Linked DNA regions of Homo sapiens. The protein of the gene in region 4 interacts with the protein of the main gene of each other region in a biochemical or structural test. Each region holds a gene or a part of one and is shown on either strand. Other genes may lie near its edges.

What was found. Proteins that work in one complex are often made in the same cells at the same time.
Region 1: the proteins of YES1 (region 4) and RBM33 interact in a surface display test, tested with the Homo sapiens proteins (one large-scale study listed by IntAct).
Region 2: the proteins of YES1 (region 4) and EIF4G3 interact in a surface display test, tested with the Homo sapiens proteins (one large-scale study listed by IntAct).
Region 3: the proteins of YES1 (region 4) and PEAR1 interact in a surface display test, tested with the Homo sapiens proteins (one large-scale study listed by IntAct).

What each region holds. Positions count from the first base shown.
Region 1 is NC_000007.14:155,651,161-155,654,660, forward strand, and holds part of RBM33 (RNA-binding protein 33), read left to right. Parts: intron 1-3,500. UniProt on the Homo sapiens protein: RNA reader protein, which recognizes and binds specific RNAs, thereby regulating RNA metabolic processes, such as mRNA export, mRNA stability and/or translation.
Region 2 is NC_000001.11:21,166,898-21,170,397, reverse strand, and holds part of EIF4G3 (eukaryotic translation initiation factor 4 gamma 3), read left to right. Parts: intron 1-2,358; exon of another isoform or gene 2,359-2,437; intron 2,438-3,500. UniProt on the Homo sapiens protein: Component of the protein complex eIF4F, which is involved in the recognition of the mRNA cap, ATP-dependent unwinding of 5'-terminal secondary structure and recruitment of mRNA to the ribosome. Functional homolog of EIF4G1.
Region 3 is NC_000001.11:156,913,824-156,916,929, reverse strand, and holds the end of PEAR1 (platelet endothelial aggregation receptor 1 isoform 1 precursor), read right to left. Parts: intron 3,079-3,106; coding exon 2,830-3,078; intron 2,284-2,829; coding exon 2,132-2,283; 3' UTR 501-2,131; downstream 1-500.
Region 4 is NC_000018.10:732,243-735,742, forward strand, and holds part of YES1 (tyrosine-protein kinase Yes), read right to left. Parts: intron 724-3,500; coding exon 592-723; intron 1-591. UniProt on the Homo sapiens protein: Non-receptor protein tyrosine kinase that is involved in the regulation of cell growth and survival, apoptosis, cell-cell adhesion, cytoskeleton remodeling, and differentiation.

The DNA of each region.
Region 1 (3,500 bases), on a different chromosome or scaffold from region 4:
AGCCACTGCACCTGGCCGACAGCTTCTTGAGTGTGTGTGTTGAAGGTAAATTTTTTGAGATTGAGACTCCTGAGTCTGAAGGAAATTTTAATTTTCACAACTTGATTGGTGGTTTTGTTGGGTCCAGAATTTTAGATTTGAGTTTATTTTTGTAAGATTTTTGGCGGTATTGTTGTGTTTTCTGGCATCCAGATCTGCTCTTGAGAAGTTTGAGGACATTCTGATTCCTAATCATTTTTTATGTGACCTTTTTTCATTCTAGAAGTTTTTAACAACATTTTCTCCTCTTTGTTTGACATTTCATCCCTTAAACTCAGCCATTTAGAAGGCTTCATGGCTAGGCCAGGAGGTGGAGGTTGTAGTGAGCCGAGATCGCACCACTGCACTCCAGCCTGGGCAACAGGGAAACTCTTTGTCTCACCAAAAAAAAAAAAAAAAAAAAGGGTCTAGGTTCCTGGGAAAAGAAATGAGTGTCAGTTCCTATAGATTTTAAGTCATGATGGGAACATCCAGTAGGCTGAGCTCAGCTCACTTGCCTCTTCTCGGCTACCCAAGTTTATAGAGCAAGCCTTTATAACTTCCATAATAGGAGGGGTCCTATCTCATATCAAGCAGGAATTCTATTATGATTGATTTTTAAACCCTGAATGATGAAAGTTTGTTGAAAGACAAACAAATGACCAATGAGGACTACACTTCATAAACAAAATAAAAACTTCATTTTAGGGAGAACCTCTCCTGGGGCCCGTGTAACATAGGAGATTTTTAAAACAGTGACTACAAATTATTTCTAAAGCAACATGGTGTAGGAACTCTTTCTGAAAATTTGGCTTGGCTATTCAGAACTTACTAGTTATGCTGTAAGGCTCATATGTTCACTTCGAAAGTTATTGGACATTACCTGATTTGTAGTTAATATTTAAATAAAGGATCTGGATTTCCTCATCTATAAAATAAGGAATTTTGACTATTAGTGATTTGGACTAGGAACATATTATACATGAGTGTGATATTGAGGAAAAAGAAGGTTGAGAACCTTTGGAATACAAAGGTCAGCAAACTTTTTCTGTAAAGGGTCAGATAGTAAATATTTTAGGCTTTGCAGGGCAGATGAGTTTTGTTGGAAGTGCTGAACTCCGCCGTTTACCTTGAAAGCAGCCATAGACAATATATGCCTGAATTGGAATAGCTGTGTTCCATTAAAAGCTTATTTACATACACGGGTGGTAGCTAAATTTGGGCAGAAACAGGTGGCAGGCCCTACTTGGCCCATGGGCTTTGGTTTGCTGACCCTTAGATTAGATAATTGCTAGAACCCTATCACAAGCTAATAGTCTATGTGGTATCTTATCCAAGTCGAGGATTCTGGAAAAGAAGAAGAAATAGAATGGTAAGTAAAAGTTTGTGTTAACTGTAGATGTCTGATTGCTGCATGATAGAGAATTGTAGAAATCTAGTAGATATCTTCAGTCTTGAAGGAAAATTGATCCCCCTATTAAAATAGAATGTCTTGTACAATGTTTAGGCCTTAGAAGGAGATTTTCCAGGTAAGGAGGTCATTGACCTCTTTCGTTTTGCTCAGTTAATATTTTACCCCTTGGCTTTCATGGATGTGCTGTTCTTCCTTTAAAGTTCTGGACTAATGGGGACACATTTTTTCTTCTTGGTTCTGTTTAATATGACTGCTATGAACTGGAACTTTAAAAAGTATTTGTATTCTAAAGGAAAACAGAGGGAAATGACTCAGAATATATTAAGAATATAAACAGGCTGTACAGGGTTCTTGTGTTAGCTTGCCCTGTAAGATTTTGAGTCATTATTTCACTTAGCATGATGTCTTCAAGATTCATCAGTGTCGTAGCATGTGTCAGAACTTCCTTTTTAAGGCTAAATAATATTCCATTATATATCTATACTATTTTTTTTTAAACCATATATCCTTCAATAGACACTTGAGTTGCTTCCACCTTTTGGTTATTGTAAATAATACTAATAGGAGCTTGAGTATATTAATGTGTCTTCAAGTGCCTGCTTTCAGTTCTTTTGAGTGTATACCCAGAAATGGAATTGCCACGCCAGTCCTTGGATTTAGGGGCCAGTCTTAATCCAGAATGACTTCATTTTAACTAATTACATCTGCATAGATTCTATTTCTAAATAAGGCCACATTCTGAGGTTCTGGTGGACATGCCCTTTTGGGGGATGCTGTGGTATGATAAAAAATGAATATTTTTTTCTGCCCAGGTTCCCTCGGCAGAACTTTGGAAACCCTTTGAATTTACTATCTTTTCTACACTAATGAGATGGCTTATAGCGGGGGTGGGGGCCCTAGATAGCTTTGGGGTGGGGGCTTGTCAGAAAAACTAACCCCATGTTAAGAGGGTTAGAACGTTCAGGCTCAACCCCCAGCCTCCCTCGAGGGGAGGGGCTGGAGATTGGTGGTAATCACCATTAGTCAGTGATTTAATCATCAGGTTTAGGGAGCTTCTGAGTTGGTGAGCACCTCCTCGTGCTGGGAGGGTGGTGCACCCTGACCCTTCAGACTGGCCCTGTGTACCTCTTCATCTGGCTCTTCATTTGTATCCTTTATAATAAACTGTAACAGTAAGTACGGTGTTTTCCTGAGTCCTGTGAATTGTTATAGTAATAGCAATGGGGGGAGGTGTGATAACCCCAGAATTTGTAGACTTCAGCCAGGGAGAAGTGTGAGTAGCCTGGGCACCTCATTGCAGTTGGCATCTGAAGTGGGGCAGCCTTGTGAAACTGAGCCCTTAACCTGTGGGGCCTGCCCGAACTCCAGATGATTAGTATTAGGATTGAATGGAGTTGTTGGTATTGCAGTATGATTGTGCAATTTGGTACAGTCAGCAAGTCAAACTTTTAAAAAATATTGCAAAAGATGGCTGAGTGAAGTGTAATAATACACATGCAGCATTTTAAAAACCAAACTTATTAACTTCTACCCCACCCTCAAATAAACCAGCACGTATATCCATCAATCCACAACTAATCCAGATTCAAAATACTGATGTTTTCATTGACTTCTCCTTCCTTGTTCTATTCAGTTAGTCAACATGCCTTGGAATTTCTAAATTGACAGTTTCTGGTTCATGCATTTGTCTTATTCTCCCTTCTGTTTCTTCACCGTGATGCTAACCACATTTTTTTTTCTTAATGGTTGGTTTGTAGTTACTTTGTTTTACCATTGTTTATGTTTTATCGATTAATTAGTTCTTGCTTCTTGCTACTAGATTACCTTTCCTAAACTGAGGCTGTGTTGCATATGAAGTATAGATTTCTTACGTTGCTTTTCTAGTAATGCCCCAAATCTTTACCACCTTTTCTTTCTGACTACTTCTCTCTATGAGTGTGCTTTCAACTCACCTGAACTCCTTGCTGTGCTCTAGGCTTGTGGAACTCAGCCTCTGTGCTGTTATTTCCCTGGAATGCCCATCTACTTGACAAAAATGTAGTTATTCTCAGCCTTCATCTCAGTTATT
Region 2 (3,500 bases), on a different chromosome or scaffold from region 4:
CACCTGGCCTGTTGTGTACTTTTTTGAGCCCACTGTGTGCTGCCTGACTTTATAAGACATTGAATTTTGTTAATAGAATGTAAACTCCATGAAGGCAGAGATTTTTGTTTATTTTGTTCACTGTGGAATTGCTAGCACCTAGAATACTGCTTGACAGACAGTAGGCAGTCTGTAAATTTATTTGTTTGTTTGTTTGTTTGTTTGTTTATTTATTTATTTTTGAGATGGAGTTTCACTCTTGTCGCCCTGGCTGGAGTGCTAGTGGCACAATCTCAGTTCACTTCAACCTCCGCCTCCTGGATTCAAGTGATTCTCCTGCCTCAGCCTCTAGAGTAGCTGGGACTACAGGCGTGCACCACCACGCCTGGCTAATTTTTGTATTTTTAGTAGAGGCGGGGTTTCACCATGTTGGTCAAGATGTTCTCAATCTCCTGATCTTGTGATCCGCCTGCCTTGGCCTCCCAAAGTGCTGGGATTACAGGCTTGAGCCACCGTGCCTGGCCTGTAAATATTTATTAAATAAAAAGTGTGTTGGACTTTGGGAATCAATTTGAAGATAAGTTTTAGGATTAATATAGATGGCATCACAACTCACTTACAGCATTCAAAGCTGCCCTCAAATTATTTTGCAGGGATGTATAATTGAATTGAAAATAATTCTGTAATTTCCTTTCAGATGGAATAGCATTGACCCAGTTTACAAAGCCATCTGAAGTGCCTGAGTTGTATTTGAAGTACATATTGATACTGAGGATTAGGGTTGGTATGAAGGCCAAAGAGGAACAACATCTGTAGTCAAATATTATTATTAAAAACTTATGATTATAAGAGCAAGACATAATTAAATGAGAAATTTGGAAAAATATAGAAAAGTAAAAAATCACTCATAATCTTATTAGTGGAGACAACCCCTTTTATTTTATTTTATTTTATTTATTTATTTTTTTGGGGGGAGAGAGTGTTGCCCTGTTTCCCAGGCTGGAGTGCAGTGGCACAATCTTGGGTCACTGCAACCTCTGCCTCCCGGGTTCAAACAATTCTGCCTCAGCCTCCCAAGTAGCTGGGATTACAGGTGCATGCCATTATACGCAGCTAATTTTTGTATTTTGGGTAGAGGTGGGGTTTCACCATGTTGGCCAGGCTGGTCTCGAACTCTTGACTTCAGGTGATCTGCCCACCTCGGCCTCCCAAGGTGCTGGGATTACAGGTGTGAGCCACCGCGCCTTGCCACTTTTTTAAAGAGGTGGGGTCTTACTCTACCTCCCAGGGCATGGTCATGGCTCACTACAGCCTTGACCTCCTGGGCTCAAGCAATCCTCCCACCTCAGCCTCCCAAGGAGCTCGGACCACAGGTGTGTGCCACCACACCTAGCTAATTTTTTTGTAGAGATGGGGTTTTGCCATGTTACCCAGGCTGGTCTCGAACTCTTGGGCTCAAGCCACCTGCTCACCTTGGCCTCCCAAAGTTCTGGGATTACAGGCATGTGTCCCAGTGTGTAGCTGTGATAACCACTTTTAACATTTTGGTGTATTTCTGTCCTGATTTTTTTTTTTCTGTGGATTTTAATATTAGTGGTCATACATTTTTGTAACATAAAGTCAGATTATGTACCTAGTTTTGTATCTTGCTTAATTTGCTACCTAAGTATCTGCCATGAAAAGTACTTTTTTTGGCCAGGTGTGGTGGTTCATGCCTGTAATCCCAGTACTTTGGGAGGCTGGGGCAGGAGGATCACTTGAGTCTAGGAATTTGAGACCAGCCTGGGCAACATAGTGAGACCCCATCTCTAATAAAAATTAAAAAATAGTTTGCCAGGAGTGGCAGTGCATGCCTGTAGTCCCTGCTACTCAGGAGGCTGAGGCCGGAGGATTGCTTGAGCCCGGGAGGTCAAGGCTGTAGTGAGACCTGATTGTGTGATTGCACACCAGCCTGGGTGAAAGGGCAAGACTGTCCCCCAAAAATAAAAAGAGATACTTTTTTTTTTTAAAAAATTGAGACGGAGCCTCGCTCTGTCACCCAGGCTGGAGTGCAGTGGCACGATCTCAGCTCACTGCAACCTTGGCCTCCCGGGTCAAGCAATTCTCCTGCCTCAGCCTCCTGAGTAGCTGGGATTACAGGTGCCCTCCACCACGACCGGCTAATTTTTTGTATTTTTAGTAGAGACGGGGTTTCACCATGTTGGCCAGGCTGGTCTCAAACTCCTGACCTCAAGTGATCTGCCCACCTCAGCCTCCCAAAGTGTTGGGATTACAGGCGTGAGCCACCACACCCAGCCAAGAGATACTTCTTGAATAGTTTTATTCTGTATCTACTTGAAATATAAGTGAACTTTTTGTTTATTTGGAATGCTTTTCTTGGGAATATTTTTTCACCTTTGGCTTTTAGCTTAGAAGTTATGACTGCACATTACAAAGGGGAATGTTCAAACCTTTATCAGTAAGTCAAACATCTTTTGAGTTATTGTTCCTGTAATGTTTTGCATTATTTGCAAGATTAAAACTCAGTGTAACATCACAAGTTTTTTTCCCATACAATTATTTACATTTCTTTATTATCTCTTTAAGTTCATCTTTATATGTTCAAGTATACTAAGTTTTTAAAAAAGGCTGGGAGCCAGAGTCCTAATTTTTTTTTTCTTTGTGACGGAGTCTCACTCTGTTGCCCAGGCTGGATTGCAGTGTTGTGATCTTGGCTCATTGCAACCTCCACCTCCCGGGTTCAAGCGGTTCCCCTGCCTCAGCCTCCTGAGTAGCTGGGATTACAGGCACCCGGCACCACGCCTGGCTAATTTTTGTATTTTTAGTTGAGGCAGGGTTTCACCATATTGGCCTGGCTGGTCTTGAACTCCTGACCTTGGCCTTCCAAAGTACTGGGATTACAGACGTGAGCCACTGCACCTAGTGTATTTATATATTGGCCAGGCTGGTCTCGAACTCTTCATCTCAGGTGATCCATCTGCCTCAGCTTCCCAAAGTGCTGGGATTACAGGCGTGAGCCATCGCGTCTGGCATTTAGTTGGTTTTCAGGAAGTGTTAGTATCATGAGGAGTGATTGAAGGAAGGAGGAAAAGACCACAGGGATTCATGCGGGATGAGGGAAAGAGGATTGAAGTGTGGGAACAAACATAATTTTGGAATAAGGAGAGAAAATTAAGTGGGAATAGAAAATGAACACAGCCAGTTTTAAACCAGAATACTATTTTTACATTGAGAATGGAAAGGACTGAACCTTGAAGGTTAAATGAGATGATTCCTGACCTTTTTTCTAGGTCCTAGTAATTAGTATGTAAGAAATAGAACTTGGTCGGAGAACTTGGCCAGGTGCAGTGACTCATGGCCTGTAATCCCAGCACTTCAGGAGCCCAAGGTGGGTGGATTGCTTGAGTTCAGGAGTTTGAGACCATCCTGGATGACATGACAAAACCCCGTCTTTACAGAAAATACAAAAATTAGCCAGGCGCGGTTGCACGTGCCTGTAGTCCCAGCTACTTGGGAGGCTA
Region 3 (3,106 bases), on a different chromosome or scaffold from region 4:
CGCCACCACACCTGGCTAATTTTTTGTATTTTTAGTAGAGACAGGGTTTCACCATGTTGGCCAGGCTGGTCTCAAACTCCTGACCTCATGATCCACCTGCCTTGGCCTTCCAAAGTGCTGGGATTACAGGCGTGACCCACCGCACCCGGCCAGCTGTTTCACTTTCTTATTATTCATGTTTTCACTGGAGTAACACTTATAATTTCCTTCAAGAACTTTTCCTTTGCATCCACAACTTGGCTATTTAGTGCAAAAGGCCTAGCTTTCAGCCTGTCTTGGCTTTCAACATGCCTTCCCCACTAAGTTTAATCATTTCTAGCTTCTGATTTTAAGTGAGAGATGTGTGACTATTCCTTTCACTTCAACACTTAGAGGCCCCTGTAGGGTTATTAATTGGCCTCATTTCAATATTGTTGTGTCTCAGGGAATAGGGAGGCCCTAAGAGAGGGAAAGACTTGGGGGAACGGCTGGTCGGTGGAGCAGTCAGAACACACACAACGTTTGCTGATTAAGTTTACCGTGTTATATGGGTGCGGTTCATGGCGCCCCGAAACAATTACAATAATATATCAAAGATCACTGATCACAGATCACTATAACACATATAATAACAATGAAAATGCTTGAAATATTGCAAGCAATTACCAAAATGCAATGTAGAGACCCAAAATGGGCACATGCTATTGGAAAAATGGTGCCAACAGATTTGCTTAAAGCAGTGTTGACACAAATCTTCAATTTCTCTGCTTTGCTTTTCTTAACCTATTGCTGTCACATATATGTCCCAAAACCTTCAATTTCTTTAAAAATTCTGCTACCTGTGAAGTGCAATAAATCAAGGCATGCCTGTATACTCTCTCCTGTTATCCTTTCTCCAGCCTCTGCACCCCCCTCAGCCTCAGCCCCTCTGCACCCCTGCCCCTGGCACCTTCCCACACCTGAGCTCTGCGTTGTTACCCTGGGGAAATGCCACCCTTTAGGGAAGTCTCCAACTTATTCAGTCTGTAACTGTCAGAGCATACAGATGGCTCATCTATCTTAGCAGTTACTGCATGTCACTGGTACTTAATTCAGTCAGCCACTCAGCCTTTTGGGGAGCATTTGTTGAGTGCCTACTCTGTGCCAAGGGAGAGCTAATATTGAGCATAAGCACAGGATTCTTGCCTTCAGGGAGCTTACAGTCTAGTGGGGGAGGCAGAGATTAATCAAATAATCACATAAAGAAAGAACACATTAAAGAAGTGCCTGGCACCCTGTAGGCCTTCTGCAGGTACCTGGTGAGTGAACACAGCTGCAATCAGGGCTGTGAAAGATGTACGGAGGGTGGGCACTTCCCTGAGGAGGAGGTGTAAAGGAAAAGCAGGGGTGAACAGGCGAGTGGGGGAGGAAGGGCACTCCAGGTGTGCAGGTCCCTGTGCCAGAAAGAAGAGTGGCCTACAGGAGGACCTAGAGGCCGGTGTGACTGGCGTGCAGTGACAGGAACACAGTTCAAGGTGAGGCTGGAGAGACAGATGGGCCAGGCAAAGCAGGGCCTTTAAGGCCTTCAAAAGTTTTGATACTGGCAGAAGAGCAAAGAGGCACCTATGAAGGCTTTCAGGTAGGGAGTAACTAACCAGCCTGTATTTTGAAATTATGAGCCATGCATTGGAAGGTTCACTGAATCAATGGAGGAGGCCAGTTAGGAGGCTATTGCTAGAGTTAATTGGGTTGGTTCCATCTCCCTACTAAATGGTAAGTGCCCTAGGACAGAACCTGTGCCTGGTACCCTTCTAAAATCACAGAAACACACACACGCACAGAGCCCAGGCTGAGCATGCACAGAAAAGGTACCCCACACGCATGTCTGAAATCAGAGTTACCCAGCAACTTCCAACCCACCAGTTTATGTACACAGGGCCCTGGAGGCCTTGGGAGCAGTGGGTTGGGAAAGGGAGCCAGGCATCCTGCTGATCAGCGTCTCCCATGGTAGAACCCAGGAACAAGGCTCCCATCACTTGCTCTGTTAAGCGTTGTTCATGTTCACAGCCTGCCGGTCCACTCCCTGCTCCTGGCAGGGGTACACTAGGCTCTGTCCCCAGCCTTGAGCAGCAACAGCCAGGTGTGCTGGCCTCTGCCATACCATCCTGGCTCCTCAACGGTCCTGGCGTCGAAGTGGAGGTGATGGGGGATGCCGTACTGGAGGCAAGTCATAATGTCCAGGGATGTGGCTGTTCTTGGGTGAGTCATAGTGGCCGGGGGGTAGGCCCGGAGGCAGAGGGGGCTGGGAGCCCACAGAGTCTCGGTCTGGAAACATGAGGACAAGATAAGAGGGAGTGGCTCCTCCCACCACTCTCCCCACTCCCTCCACTCCCACTGCACTCCTCTCCTCTTCAGCCTCTTCAAGGCAAAGAGAAGCAGATGGGGCCTGGATACATACACCAGTTTACTATCAGCTGGCCGTGCGGCTCCAAGCAAAACTCTCTTAGCTTCTCAGCTGCCAATGGAGAAAGCCACCTCAGCCCGCCCACCTCCCAGGATATGAGGAGACTTTATCACCTGCCTGGCTCCCTACTTTTCTGGGTACCAACTCCACCACTCTGATGCTGTACGACCCCACTTCTATCCTGAGCTCTGCGAAGAAGGTACACCATACTGTTCTCCAGATGAGGACACAGGCTCTGAGAGGCCACGTCGCCTCCCCGTCATGCCTGATTTGAGCCCGAAGCTGACCCCAAAGGCCTCACTCTTGATGCCACATCATGCCTTCTCTTCTCCCTCTGTTCCTTCTGTTTTTCTGCCTCCCTTGTCCCAGTTCTCTGCTGCTCCTGCCAGTGGAGAGGGAGGGCTCACCATGGATCAGGGGGCTGGGCTGCTCGTAGGTGCCACTGTCTCTCTGTGGCTGGGGTTGCCGCCGCCTCTGGCTGTCCCAGAACTGAGGAGGCTGCCTGGGGGGAGATCCTGAGGGAGGGCCTTTCATCTCCATGTAGCTGCTCTCCCGGGGGCCCCCTGGCAAGCTGGGCAGGTCCCGGATGGTGGCATATGGGTTCTCACTGCTCAGGGAAGCCACACTGGCCCCGAGCTCCTCTTCAGAGATGAGCCCTAAGGATAGAGGAAAGAAGTCAGGCCG
Region 4 (3,500 bases):
AGCTTAGCCAACATGGCAAAACCCCATCTCTACTAAAAATACAAAAAATTAGCTGGGTGTGGTGGTGGGTGCCTGTAATCCCAGCTACTTGGGAGGCTGAGGCAGGAGAATTGCTTGAACCCGGGAGACAGGTTGCAGTGAGCCAGACTGTACCACTGCACTCCAGCCTGGGTGACAGAGCAAGACTGTGTTTAAAAAAAAAAAAAAAAAAAAAACAAAACACCAATCACACTACTGGGAAAGAACAGTTATTTAGGGTATAGGGTGGATGAGCCAGGATATTTAAGATATGTTTATTATCTGAGAGAACAGTAAGAGGCCCCTTTGGAAAATGTCCTGAGAAAGCTGAGGTGAATGTGGGGCCTATCTCATGTGCTCACCCTGTCAAGGATCGTGGCTTTCACTGACTTACCCGTCCAATGCCACAGTTACCCATCCAATGCCACAGTAAAGGGAAGGAGTGGGGAGAGGGAGAGGCAGGGGGACTATGAGAAGAAATAAAGGCCTTTTCCCCGCTTACAATTCTGTTCCTAATAAACTCCTGATAAAGCCACTCATGAGATAACCAAGAGCTATAAAATGCAAGCTTACCTGGATATGGCACTCGGCCCTTTGTTACTAGTTCTGTTTGCAGAATTCCAAATGACCAGACATCAGACTTTATTGTAAACCGACCATACAGTGCAGCTTCAGGAGCTGTCCATTTGATTGGAAATTTTGCACCTAAAATAATGTTGACCATCTTGCTTAATTGTTTTTTAAAAATCTATTTGTGTAAACATAGCATATGCAGGGCTAATGTTCTGTCAATATCTCTACTGTAGTCATCAGTGTCAATTCTTTAAATGTACAAGATACATGGGATAAAAATTCTTTAATTTTTAAAATTCATATTGAAATAAATCACATTTCTTCCTGATTAGACAGCTGATGATATAAAAAATAAGTTGGCTGTGGGAACAGAAAACAATTTAAGAAAATAGAGGTTGAAGCTCTAGTAAGCCAAAGATACATGTTATAATATGTGTAACTTTTAAGTACAGTCTGGCACCTAATAGCTGTAGTTAACTATTGGTTGATGAGTGAATATTCTATTGAGTTATAATGTTTATGGGTTTTCCTACTTTTTATATCATTCTGGAAAATTTTATTGTACTACTTTTAAAAGTCCATGTTAATTAACTCAAATACTTACTGTATATCTTTTTTGTGGAGGGCATTATGCTAATCACTATGGAAACCTAAAAAGCATGGCTTTCGGCCGGGCGCGGTGGCTCAAGCCTGTAATCCCAGCATTTTGGGAGGCCGAGGTGAGTGGATCATGAGGTCAGGAGATTGAGACCATCCTGGCTAACATGGTGAAACCCCGTCTCTACCAAAAATACAAAAAATTAGCTGGGCGAGGTGGCAGGAGCCTGTAGTCCCAGCTACTCGGGAGGCTGAGGCAGGAGAATGGTGTGAACCCAGGAGGCGGAGCTTGCAGTGAGCTGAGATTGCGCCACTGCACTCCAGCCTGGGCAACAGAGTGAGACTCCGTCTCAAAAAAAAAAAAAAAAAAAAAAAAAAAAGCATGGCTTTCATGAAGTTTATAAACTTATTGCAGAAATAATATTATAGGTGTCTTACATTCTTTAAGTTATTTATATGTGTTTGTAGATAGTGTTTTAAAACAGAGTTCTTTAGATATTTAGACAAACAGATGATCAATTTTCCTTGGCACCATTACAAAATGTTTTATTTAAAAAGTGGCAGGTGGTTGGGCACAGTGGCTCACGCCTATAATCCCAGCAATTTGAGAGGCCGAGGTGGGCAGATCACCTAAGGTCAGGAGTTCAAGACCAGCCTGGCCAACACGGTGAAACCCTGTCTGTACCAAAAATACAAAACTTAGCCAGGTGTGGTGGTGCATGCCTGTAATCCCAGCTACTCGGGAGGCTGAGGCAGGAGAATTGCTTGAACCTGGGGGGCAGAGGTTGCAGTGAGCCAAGATCATGCCACTTCACTCCAGTCTGGGCAAAAAAGCAAAACTTGGCCAGGCGCGGTGGCTCACGCCTGTATTCCCAGCACTTTGGGAGGCCGAGGTGGGCGGATCATGAGGTCAGGAGATTGAGACCATCCTGGCTAATACGGTAAAACCCCGTCACTACTAAAAATACAAAAAAAAAAATTAGCCGAGCTTGGTGGCAGGCACCTGTAGTCCCAGCTACTCGGGAGGCTTAGGCAGAATGGCGAGAACCCGGGAGGCAGAGCTTGCAGTGAGCCAAGATCGCGCCACTGCACTCCAGCCTGGGTGACAGAGTGAGACTCCATCTCAAAAACAAAACAAAACAAAAAAAACCAGGAGCAACTACAACATACAACATCACTAATCATCAGGGAAATGCAAATTAAAACTACAGTGAGACACTACCTTACTCCTGTAAGAATGGCCATAATGAATAAGTAAAAAAAAAAAACAATAGATGTTGGTGTGGATGTGGTGAAAAGGGAACATTTTTCCACTGATGGTGGGAATGTAAATTAGTACAACCACTATGGAAAACAGTATGGAAACTCCTTAAAGAACGAAAAGCAGAACTACCATTCAATCCAGCAAACCCACTACTGGGTATCTTCCCAAAGGAAATGAAATCAGCCAGGTGTGGTGGCTCACGCCTGTAATCCCAGCGCTTTGGGAAGCCAAGGCGTGTGGATCACCTGAGGTCAGGAGTTTGAGACCAGCGTGGCCAACATGGTGAAACCGTGTCTCTACTAAAATACAAAAATTAGCCGGGCCTGGTGGCAGGTGCCTGTAATCCCAGCTACAGGGGAGGCTGAGGCAGGAGAATCATTTGAACCTGGGAGGTGGAGGTTGCAGTGAGCTGAGATTGTACCACTGCACTCCAGCCTGGGCAACAGATTGAGACTGTGTCTCAAAGCAAAAAAAAAAAAATCATTATATGAAAAAGATACATCCACAAATGTTTATAGCAGCACAATTCGCAATTGCAGATATGGAGCCAATCTAAATGACCATTGACCAATGAGTGGATAAAAAAAAATGTGGCATATATACACCATGGTATACTACTCAGCCGTAAAAAGGAATGAAATAATGTCTTTTGCAGAAACTTAGAGCTAGAGGCCATTATTCTAAGTGAAGTAACTCAGGGATGGAAAACCAAATATTGTATGGTCTCACTTAAAAGTGGGGCTAAGCTATGAGGACACAAAGGCATAAGAGTAATATAATGGACTTTGGGGAGTAAGGGGGAAAGGTTGGGGGGTGGATAAAAGACTACATGTTGGAGGTGAAACCCCGTCTCTACTGAAAATACAAAAATTAGCTGGGTGTGGTGGTACGAGCCTGTAATCCCAGCTACTCGGGAGGCTGGGGCAGGAGAATCGCTTGAATCTGGGAGGCGGAAGTTGCAGTGAGCCGAGATCGTGCCGCTACACTCCAGCCTGGGCTGGGCAACAGAGTGAGACTCCGTCTCAAAAAAACAAACAAAAAAACCTAC